Linked DNA regions of Homo sapiens: region 2 is linked to region 1. Evidence: fine-mapped QTL for protein levels in blood plasma. Region 1 holds a variant in brackets. A gene starts in the other region. All regions are shown on one strand. Distances are from middle to middle.

Region 1 (5,376 bases):
TCCTGCTGCCAGGATTCCAGAGGTCCATGGTGAAAGTAGGTTGCTCCTCACCTGTTTAACTCACCCCTTCCCCAGGAGTTGCTGCAATCCAGGAACAAGTCCCAGTGCATGGTAGCTCTGTACATGGTTTCTATCATCTTCCCCCTTCATCCTAGCATCTTTGTCCTTGCTACATCCATTCTCAAGGCTTCACTCTGAAGATCTGCTCAGAGTGTACCAATCTTTCTGATGTCTGTTTCTTGATGGCAGATGTACTTCCTGGCTGCATCTAGTCTCCTATCTTGAATCCAGAATCTCACTGTGGTTTTGATTTGCAATTCTGTAATGATTATTGGTGTTGAGAATTTTTTATATGTCTGTTGGACATTTGTGAGTCTTCTTTTGAAGAATGTTTATTCGGATTATTTGCCCACTTTTAAATGGGATTATTTGTATTTTTGCTCTTGAGTTTTTTTGGTATCTTAGTATATTCCAGATATTAGTCACTTGTTGGATTCATAGTTTGCAAATATTTTCTTCCATTCTACAGGTTGTCTCTTCAGTCTGTTGACTGTGGCAGGTTGACAGGGCCTGTTGTTAGGCTTTCCTATTGTGCACATGTGTACCAGTGTCAACAGGCAGGCTGGGTCGTTTCCCAGGCCCCCGGATAGCAGATAGTGTGCTTGGGTGTCAGTGTCAGTGGGCAGGGTGGGCCTGTTCTCAGGCCCCTCACTGTGCCTGGGCAAGCTGGTCCCAGGATTCATGAATGTACATGTAGACAAATGGCTTCCTTGCTGCTAGTGGTCAGTGGGGATGCCATCAGTGGCAGCAGCCCTAGGCAAGTGGCTCTCAGGATCTGGTTACTGCATATTTTAGCTCCATATGTCCCAGAGGCAGCCTATCCAGTGCACTGCTAGAGTTCTGAGTATCTGGCTGCATTTATGGGTCCAGCCAGTGTCATAATGTTGCATTCCTCTGAGTGGGCATGAGAGGATGTCTGCAGGGCTTTTGGGATGTAGAGATGCAGGGTCTGTTGGGTCCCAGAGCAGGATGTAGTCTGGTGGGAGTCGTACTCTCAAAATGGCGCTGTGAAGCAGCTGCTTGGGTCCCAGAGTTGTATGTGGAACCCAGCACACACTCCTCTGGAATAATGCCAGGGTGTAGGCTTTAGGTAACTCCCTATACTCAGGGCCTGCAACAGCTGAGGGCTTCTCCATGGCTAGGATTACAGGAGTCTGTGGTGGGAACCTGAACCACTGGGGATCTCTTGCTTGCTTTTCTTCCACACTGGGGAGTTCTTTTTGACTCTGCACTACTTTGCGTCCCTCTCCTTCCATGCCTTAGAGGTTTCCTGTCACTGCTTTGCTAAATTCCAGTGTTCTCTCTTAAACTCTGTCTTTGACATGTGATTATCTACTTGCTGTTTTTGTACTTCTCCGTGGATGAGTTGGGTGCTGGGTGCCTGTAGTAAACCATCTTTGAAAAAAACGTTTTCAAATACATAAAGTACAATGCATTAGACTAAAAAAGGGACCCATTTTATGGAAATATACTTACCAAATCATTTTAAAGTTTGTGATAGAATAATGTGATTCTTAGCTAAGGGATGCTGGGCTTAATACCTAGGTGATGGGATGATTTGTTCAGCAAACCACCATGGCAAATGTTTACCTGTGTAACAAACCTGAAGATGTACCCCTGAACTTAAAAGTTGAAGAAAAAAAATGTGATTTTTTTATTAAGTTCATTCAATAGGAAGATATTTCAGTGAGCCTAGTAGTTACTATAATCTAAAATTACTAATGAGCATAAGCAATATTTTGAGATTACTCTAATAACTAATATGTTATGCAAATAACTGGAATTTTATTAGTGCAAAGCTATATATATATATATATATACACACACAAATACAATTAATTGTAACATTTTGCCTACATGCATAATTAAAAGAAATGCTAAATTTCAATTAGTGAAAATAAAAATGGGGGGAGGTGGCCAAGATGGCCCTCTAGAAACAGCTTTGGTAGGAGGCTCCCACTGAGAAGAATGAAAACAGCAAGTGAATTCTGCACCAGCAACTGAAGTATCCAGGTTCTCTTGCTGGGACTGACGAGGCAGTTAGCATGACCCATGGAGAATAAGGAAAAGCAGGGTGGACTGATGGCCCACCCGGGAGCCACGTGGGGCAAGGGGAACTCCCACCCGCAA[C/T]GAAGGGAGGCAGTGAGCAATTGTTCTATCCCACATGGGAAACCACATTTTTCCTTCCACGGATTTGTGCAACCCACAGATCAGGAGATCCCCTCATGAGCCCATGTCACCAGGGCCTTGTGTCCCAAGCAGACATCTGTACAGATTATCAGTGGCCACTTGGCTGGGGACTGCCTGACTACTGAGTTCCCATGAGGAGAGGTGACGGCCATCACTGCAATTGCCTGCTGCCTGAGATGACTGAGCTCCTGGGGTGAAGGGCAGCACCCTCACTGCAGCTCCAGTCTGCCATTTTTTCCTGCTGGTGCCAGGGAGACTGGGCAGTTTGGAACCAGGAGGAATTCTCCACAGCACAGCACAGTGGCTGTGGCAGATCGTGGCCAGACTGCCTCTTTAGGCCAGACTCTGATCCGTCCTAACTCACTGGGCTGGTTCTCCCTGCAGAAACTTCAGCAACTCCAGCCAGGGTTTTGCAGACAGAAGTCTGATCTCTCTGGGACAGAGGCCCTAGAAGGAGTGGCAGCCATGGATGCCATGGATTAGTCGACTGAGTCTTTCCTCCTGCTGGCTCTGAAGAATCTAGGCAGTACGGAGAAGCAACATTACCCCCAGCACCAAGGGGCAACCAGAGGGCTTATTTAAGCTGGTCCCTGATCCCATGCCTCCCCAACTAGGCCACTCTAGGTGGTCCCCTAGATCACCCCAAAAGGGGTCTCTAGGCATCTTATACAGGAGTGTTCCTGCTGGTATCCTGTCAGTGCCAGTCTGGGACGGAGCTCCCAGAGGAAGGAGCAGGCAGCCATCTTTTCTGTTCCTCAGCCTCCACTGATGACACCTCCAGGTGTGGGAGGAACCCAGGTGAATAGGTTCTGGAGTGGACCCCTAGCAAACTTCAGCAGGCCTGTGGAAGAGAGGCCTGACTGTTAAAAGAAAAACAAAGAAACAGAAAGCAACAACAACATCATCAACAAAAAAAAAAGTCCTCACAAAAACCTCATCCAAAGGTCAGCAGCCTCAAAGATGAAAGCTAAATATAAACTCATGAAGATGAGAAAGAATTAATGAAGAAACACTGAAAACCAAAAAAGCCAGAGTGACTTTTCTCCTCCAAATGATCACAACACCACTCCAGCATGGACACAGAACTGGTTAGAGGCTGTAATGGATGAATTGACAGAAGTAGGCTTCAGAAGGTGAGTGATAATGAATTTTGCTGAACTAAAAAAGCATGTTTTAACCCAATGCCAAGAATCAAAGAAACATGAAAAAAATTACAGGAGCTGTTAACCAGAATAACCAGTTTAGAGAAGAACATAAATGACCTGATGGAACTGGAAAACACAGCACAGAAACTTCACAATGCAACCACAAATATCAATAACCAACTAGTCCAACCAGAGGAAAGAATTTCAGATTTTGAAGACTATCTTGCTGAAATAAAACAGGCAGACAAGATTGGAGTAAAAATAATGAAAAGGAATGAACAAAACTTACCAGAACTATTGAATTATGTAAAAAAACCAAACCTATGACTGATTGGGGTACCTGAAAGAGATGGAGAGAATGGAGCCAAGTTGGAAAACATACTTTAGAATATTATCCAGGAGAACTTCCTCAACCTAGCAAGACAGGCCAACATTCAAATTCAGGAAACACGGAGAACCTCAGTAAGATATTCCATGAGAAGATCAACCCCAAGACACATAATCATCAGATTCTCCAAGGCTGAAATGAACGAAAAAAATGTTAAGGGCAGCCAGAGAGAAAGGCCAGGTCACCTACAAATGGAAGCCCATCAGATTAAAGGCAGACCTGTCAGCAGAAGCCCTACAAGCCAGAAGAGATTGGGGGCCAATACTCAACATTCTTAAATAAAAGAATTTTCAACCCAAAATTTCATATTCAGTCAAACTAAGCTTCATCAGCAAAGGAGAATTAAAATCCTTTTCAGACAAGCAAATGCTGAGGGAATTTGTCAGCTCTAAGCCTGCCTTGCAACAGCTCCTGAAGAAAGCACTAAATATGGAAAGGAAAAGCCATTACCAGCCACTACAAAAACACAATGAAATACAATGACCAGTGACACTGTGAAGCAACTACATCAACAAGTCTGCAAAATAACCAGCTAGCATCATGATGACCAGATCAAATTCACACATAACAATATTAACCTTTAATGGAAATTGGCAAAATCCCCCAAGTAAAAGGCACAGAATGGGAAGGTGGATAAAGAGTCAAGACCCATGGTGTGCTGAATTCAAGAGACCCATCTCACTTGCAAAGACATGCATAGGCTCAAAATAAAGGGATGGAGGAAAATTTACCAAGTAAATGAAAAGCAGATAGAAGCAATCTGTTGCAATCTTAGTTTATGACCAAACAGACTTTAAACAACAACAACAACAACAAAATCAAGAAAGAGAAAGAAGGGCATTACATAATGGTAAAGGGATCAATTCAACAAGAAGAGCTAATTATCCTAAATATATGTGTATCCAACACAGGAGCACAGATTCATGAAAGAAATTCTTGGAGACCTATAAAGAGACTTGGACTCCCACACAATAATACTGGGAGAGTTTTACATGCCACTGACAATATTAGACAGATCATTGAGTCAGAAAATTAACAATGATATTCAGGACTTGAACTTAGCTCTGGATCAAGTGGACCTGATGGATATCTACAGAACTCTCTACCCAAAAACAACAGAGTATGCATTGTTTTTAGTGCCACATGGCACTGACTCTAAAATTGATCACATAATTGGAAGTAAAACACTCCTCCACAAATACACAAGAACTAAAATCTTAACAAACAGTCTCTCAGACCACAGGACAATCAAATTAGCACTCAAGATTGAGTAATTCACTCAAAACCACACAACTACTTGGAAATTGAACAACCTGCTCCTGAATGCCTCCTGGGTAAATAATGAAATTAAGGTAGAAAAGAAGAAGTTCTTTGAAACCGATATGAACAAAGAATGTACTAGAATCTCTGGATGCAGCAATGTTGAGGGAAATTTATAACACTGAATGCCCACATCAAACAGCTAGAAAGAGCTCAACTTATCAAACTAACATCTCAACTAAAAGAACTAGAGAAGCAACAGCAAACAAATCCCAAAGCTAGCAGAATACAAGAAATAACTAAGATCTGAGTGGAACTGAAGGAAATAGAGAC
Region 2 (5,344 bases), 11 Mb after region 1:
GCAGTTCTGCTTTCCTCAGGATGCTCCACAAGTCTGATCCACTGTCCCCGCCTTCACTAACACCCAGCCTCCTTCTCTTCTTTATCTCCCAACCCTAGATGCTCAAGGTTGTTGGACACGTCCAGGCATGTTCTCAGAGGCAATGCAGGTCCAGTAAGAGCCTACAGGAAATGGCTCGCCAAGATCCTAGAGATGTCAGCCCAGATCCCTGATACCTCAGAAAGCGCTCTCCGGACACAAATGGATGGACTGACAGCCAGCCACAGGGCGCCTTCCCAATTGTTCTGATTTTGCGGTACCCTAGCAGGATCATCCTGACCTGATTCTGTACTTCTGCACCTAGATGCCGCAGGTCCCAGCCGCCTTGCCACACCAGGGGGTGTTCCCACACTCACCCGGTAACGGACGAGTAGATGGCTCTTGCTCCCAAATGGGACTCCGGTACAAATCCACCTCAGCGCAGAGCACACATCTCACCCAGCCCCCTCCCGTCACCCCCCGCCCTTCACCCCGCGCCCCTCAGCCCCCGCCCCTCAGACCCGCCCATCAGCCCCGCCCCTCAGCCCCCGCCCCTCAGCCCCCAGCCTGCATACACACTCACAGTATATGAAATTCCTTGTAATCAAAGTTCCGCTTGACTCATTTCACATCCACGTGTAGCAACAACAGCCCAAACCCTCCTTTCACGGTAAGCTTACCTCTTCCGCCCCCGTGAAGTTCCTAGAGCAGCTATTGGACTGTTTGAGTGCCTAGGCGTGGCTACGAAAAGAAACTGCCTTTGAGAGGAACAATGTGAGGCTGAAGAACAGTGACCCAGCCACTGGTATGGCAGGAGCTGCAAATCTCCTGGGACTGAAGCGGGGGCCAGAGAGTAGAGGGCCAGGGAGTGGGGTCCAGAGAAAGCATCAAGTTGTCTCTTTCACAGCTGAATGCAGCTCAGCTCATCAAAGTTTATTCATGACTTAGCAGGCTTGGAGTTTGACAGGGAAAATTATTGTTGGAAAAGCCAAAATTTTCAGACACATGGAGAAGCCGCTTTCCAGCTCTGCATCTGCCTCAAAAAAATACTCCTCCATTCAGAAGGGTAGATAGGATTGTGACAGGAGGAAGAGAGCAGACATGAAGCAGGGAAAAGACCACTAAAAATAAAGGAAAATTGGATTCGGCACTCAGCTTTGATCATCCATCTTCTCTGGGCCCCTGAGTGTCTGTACAAGGAGGGGGTTGAGCTACGTAGTCTCTAAGGGCACTTCAAACAATGACACTTTGGGAGTTTATTAATCCATGATCTCAGAGGCAGCGGTGGATAAATCCCGAAACGTTACTAGTCCCTGACCTTGAAGAGTTTGCAGAGCTGGGAAGATAAAGTAGACCGGACAGAGACAGAGAATTAAGGGCCAAACTATGAGGTGCAGACTGGAAGGGTTTGGGGGCCAGTAGGAAGAAGGAGTAAAAAAGAGTCTGACAAGGAAAGCAAATGCTTTTCAATAGATTAGGAGCTTTTAAAAGAGGTCAAAGAGGAAATAGCCTAATGGGTAGAGGAAAAGAAAAGCTTGAGCCAAGGTATGGGGGAGAGGACCAAGAAATGAGCCATTATCAGTCTCTGAGGGACCCCTCCTGTACTGGGCAGAGGCTATATGCCAGCTCAGGGTGGAGTCTCAGTAAAGCAGCTGAAAAGCCTTTGGTGGGAAAGGGCTGAATAGGCCCTAAGCTGAAGTAGAAAAAGTCCTAAATGAACTTCATATCTGTCCCCTAGCTAGAGTTAAGACCAGAATAGGCTACTGTGGGCTCAGGCCTAGTAGAAGGGAAAACTGCCAGAATTGGAATCCTAGGTCTGCCCCTTACTAGCTTTGTGACCTAAGGCAAGTTACTTAACCACTCTGTGGCTCAGGATTCTCTTCTGTAAAGTGGGGAAAATAACAATCCCTTACTCATAGGATTGTTTTAGGTATTATATGAGTTAATATACAAAATAGTGTTCATATGCGTAAGGAGCTTAGAATGATTTCTGGGACGTAGTGGTATAGAAGTGTTTATTAAATATAAATAAATACATGAATGCAATTTAGGGACCTCTGAAATCATCTGTGAGATTCAAATGAAAATAGCTACCCTGGGTACCTCCTAATTCTGTTCTGTCCTTTCCTAGAAAACAGGACCTCTTCTTTTTCTCCATCCTTTCCTACCCAGAGAAGCTGAATTACAGACAGTTTTGAAACTTTAGTGTAAAGAACCCTAGCTTGGAATTTAGATGTCTTGACAAAACTAAGTGTAACATCATGTAAATCTCTTCCTCTCTCTTAGTTTTCCTTTCTGCATCTGTATCCTGAAGAGACTGTTGGACTGGATGACCTTGAAACGCTAGAGCCGTGCTTCTCTCATATTAATGTGCACACAAATCACCTAAGGATCTTGTTAAAACACAGATTCTGAGTTAGCAGCTGTGGTGTGGGACTAAGACTCTGATTTTCTAACTGCTTCCAGGTGATATTGATGGTGCTGGGCCACAGACCATAGTTTTAGTAGCAAAGGTTTAGAAGGTGGACAAGAATAACATTTACTGAGCACCTATAAATCATGCATATGTGTCCCTTTATACCTTACAACCATTCTATGAGGTTGAGGTTACCATCCTCATTTTGTAGATGAAGAGGCTCCTTGTACTCTGTGATTCTGCCTGGAAGTACAGGAGGAAACTTGAGATAGAGGTACCAGGGATATGTCAGAGTCCACAAGCTATTGTGGAAAGTGATTATAAGCAGCAAATATGAAACCACTGTCCTCCACCATAACTTGTCCAATAATACTATAACAGTTAGCTGGCCCTCACTAAGCACTTGCCAGGCACTGCTCAAATTTTTTTCATGAATTAATTCATTTTATCTTCATAATCTATGAAGCCACAATCATTAGAATTATCCTCCCCTCTCCTTTTGCTCACACCTCACATTCAACCCATCAGCACATCCTATCAGCTCTGCCTCCTGCCTCAGAGATAAACTCTGAATTTCACCAACTTCTTAGCACCTTCACTGCAACCACTCTGGTGCAAGCCACGATTACTTTTCACCTGAATTATTGCCATATCCTCCAATAGCTCTCCTTGCTCTCATGCTTACCCCACTCCAGTCAATTCTCAGCAGAGCAACCAGAATGATCCTTTTAAAAGTACATCAGTCTAAGTCTGTCCAAGCAATTCTACTGGTTGGCTTCTTATTCAGCAGAAAACCCAAAATCCTTAACTATGGTCTATAATAGTCTACAATCTATCCCACGCCATCCCATCCTCACTAACCTGCCCCTCTATCTCTGATCTCACCTCTTACCACTCGCCTTGACCACCATACCCAACCCCAACTGGCGGCCTTGATATTTTTTCCAACACTCAAAGCATGCTCAAGACTCTGGTCTTTGCACTTGCTGCTCCTTCAGCCTAGCCAATTCTTCCCCCAGATATCAGCATGGCTCCTTTTCTCACTTCCTCCATATCCCTGCTTAAATGTCACTTTATCAAAGTGGACTTTCTTGAATACCCTAGCTAGTACAAGCTAATGGGATTGCCTAGGCCTTTTGAAATCCACTGGGTAGGTGAGCTTTTTCTCAACATAGCCCCAGGACCCCCGGTGCAGTGTGGTGGTGAGTAGGGTTAAGGCTCTCAACTCTGCTCTCTGTGGGGGAGCCACTCTAGCTCCATGTGCTTGTGCAGCAGAACTAAGTTTGGATCAGCTAATTTCTTGGGGGCTTTCCACAGCCCCTCCTTTTATGATAAACAGGAGTCACTTTGTGAACCCAAACTGAGAACTATCAGTACAGAGTTTCTCTACCTACATTCTACTGCTGGAACCAGCCTAACCTGACAGCAGGATAGGCAGGACCAGCCTCCACTCTGCTTATCTCTGGGACCAGACAGATTCTGGGGCTCAGTGAGATTCAGGGCTCTCTGATGCCACCCCTCAGCTCTCTCTCAGAGGTTACTTAGGGTCACTCAGGGGAATACTGGCCTTGGCTGTGTCTCAGAGAATCCTGGGTAGCCTCTAATTCTAGTGTCCAACAATGGCAGGACCACCTTTCATGAAGGAGCTTCATGGTTATCCAGGCAGAATGGGGCCCTTATAGCTCCTCTCAAGACTGGGACCAGGGGGCAGGAAAAGAAGCTGAAAGACTAAGGGGATGCTGAGGCCTGTGGGGCAACCCCTGTAAACTCAAACATTGCTAAGGATGTCCCTGAACACAATATCAGCTTCTTGTTCTCTTTAGCCTGTGAGATGTGTGTAGATAAACTTGGCCATAAATGTTTGCTGCAGTGGTGTATACAGGCTTAGGTCTTCTGAATTAGAAAGCTGGGGTATAAGAGTTACTTCTAGCCATGGGAATTTTCAAACTTCAGCTAGATTCTAGCACAGTCCAATAGTGTTATCTCTCATTTTAAATAATCTTCTATTCCACTTGCCCAAGATGGCTTTTAAAACTCACTCTTCTTAAGTCAAGTGCTCAACACAGCTCCCAAACCCCTAGCAGATGACTTCACCTCCAGTTTCACCGAGAATGTAAAAGGGCACGAAACTTGAAGTCTAAACAACTTCTGACATCTCCACATTCAAGTTCATCCTGTTTCTTACCTCAGAGTTTCCTCCTGTCCCTCCTGTCTCCATCTGTGTTTACTCCTGTCTATTCCATTTTGCTTTATTTGTATCTTCATGGTCTTTCTTCCTCTGGCTCTTTCTCCTAAATTGTCTTTCCATTCTGAACTAAGATTAATTCTTTTCATATCCTCACCTCCACCTCTTCATTTCCAAACTCACTACATTTTGCTCTTCTCAAGGTCACCCATGATTTTCATACTATCAAACCCATGGATTCTTCTGTTTTCTTATTTGAATTATCTAAAACATCCAACATTGTCTGGATTCTTTTCTTTCTGACTCTCTTCCCTTGACTTTCATGGAACTAATGTCTTCTAGTTTCACTTATTTCTCTACAGCATTTTATGGATTCTCATTCTCCACTTGCCCCTCAAGTGCAGGGATTTTACAGAGTTCCTCCCACCCTCCATTGTCCCTCTGGCCTGATTCTAACTTCTCTCACTGGAGTGTGAACCTATGTGGCAGGGACCTTATATACCATTTCACAAATTTCCACATGCAAAACTGTACCTAGAGTATTTTAAGCGCTCAATACATTTTTACATATTATATATATCAATATATCTGTTGAATAAGCCCAAGGAGAAAAATGTTCACATTTGAATGTATCCTTCTATAATGAGCTCCCAGGCCTCAGGTGTGCCACAATAAAAATAAGATGGCTAAAAAGGAATTGAAACCCACACCCAAAATAATAATAA

Alleles and levels. Alleles are on the strand shown, and positions count from the first base shown. The strength of an association depends on the size of the effect and on how common the allele is.
For the plasma level of the protein whose gene starts at base 479 in region 2, allele C in region 1 goes with a higher level than allele T (weak association).

Evidence for each region. A credible set is the group of variants that fine-mapping cannot tell apart. PIP is the posterior inclusion probability: the model's chance that the variant is causal. Protein levels are from antibody-based Olink assays in UK Biobank. Linkage for the fine-mapping came from a reference panel and not from the study's own genotypes, which makes the PIPs less certain.
Region 2: EDA2R starts here. The variant in region 1 is the best candidate, but not a certain one, in a credible set for the plasma level of the EDA2R protein (UK Biobank, PIP 0.51).

The regions. Positions count from the first base shown.
Region 1 is chrX:56,006,259-56,011,634 of GRCh38, forward strand. It overlaps a transcript of KLF8 not described here. Among named protein-coding and RNA genes, the nearest start is that of KLF8, 220 kb to the right of the region's middle. The variant C/T (reference allele first, on the strand shown) is at 2,191.
Region 2 is chrX:66,638,600-66,643,943 of GRCh38, forward strand. EDA2R (ectodysplasin A2 receptor) reads right to left here and starts at 479. Exons shown (of 7, transcript NM_021783.5): 1 at 396-479. RefSeq lists an enhancer at 1-299.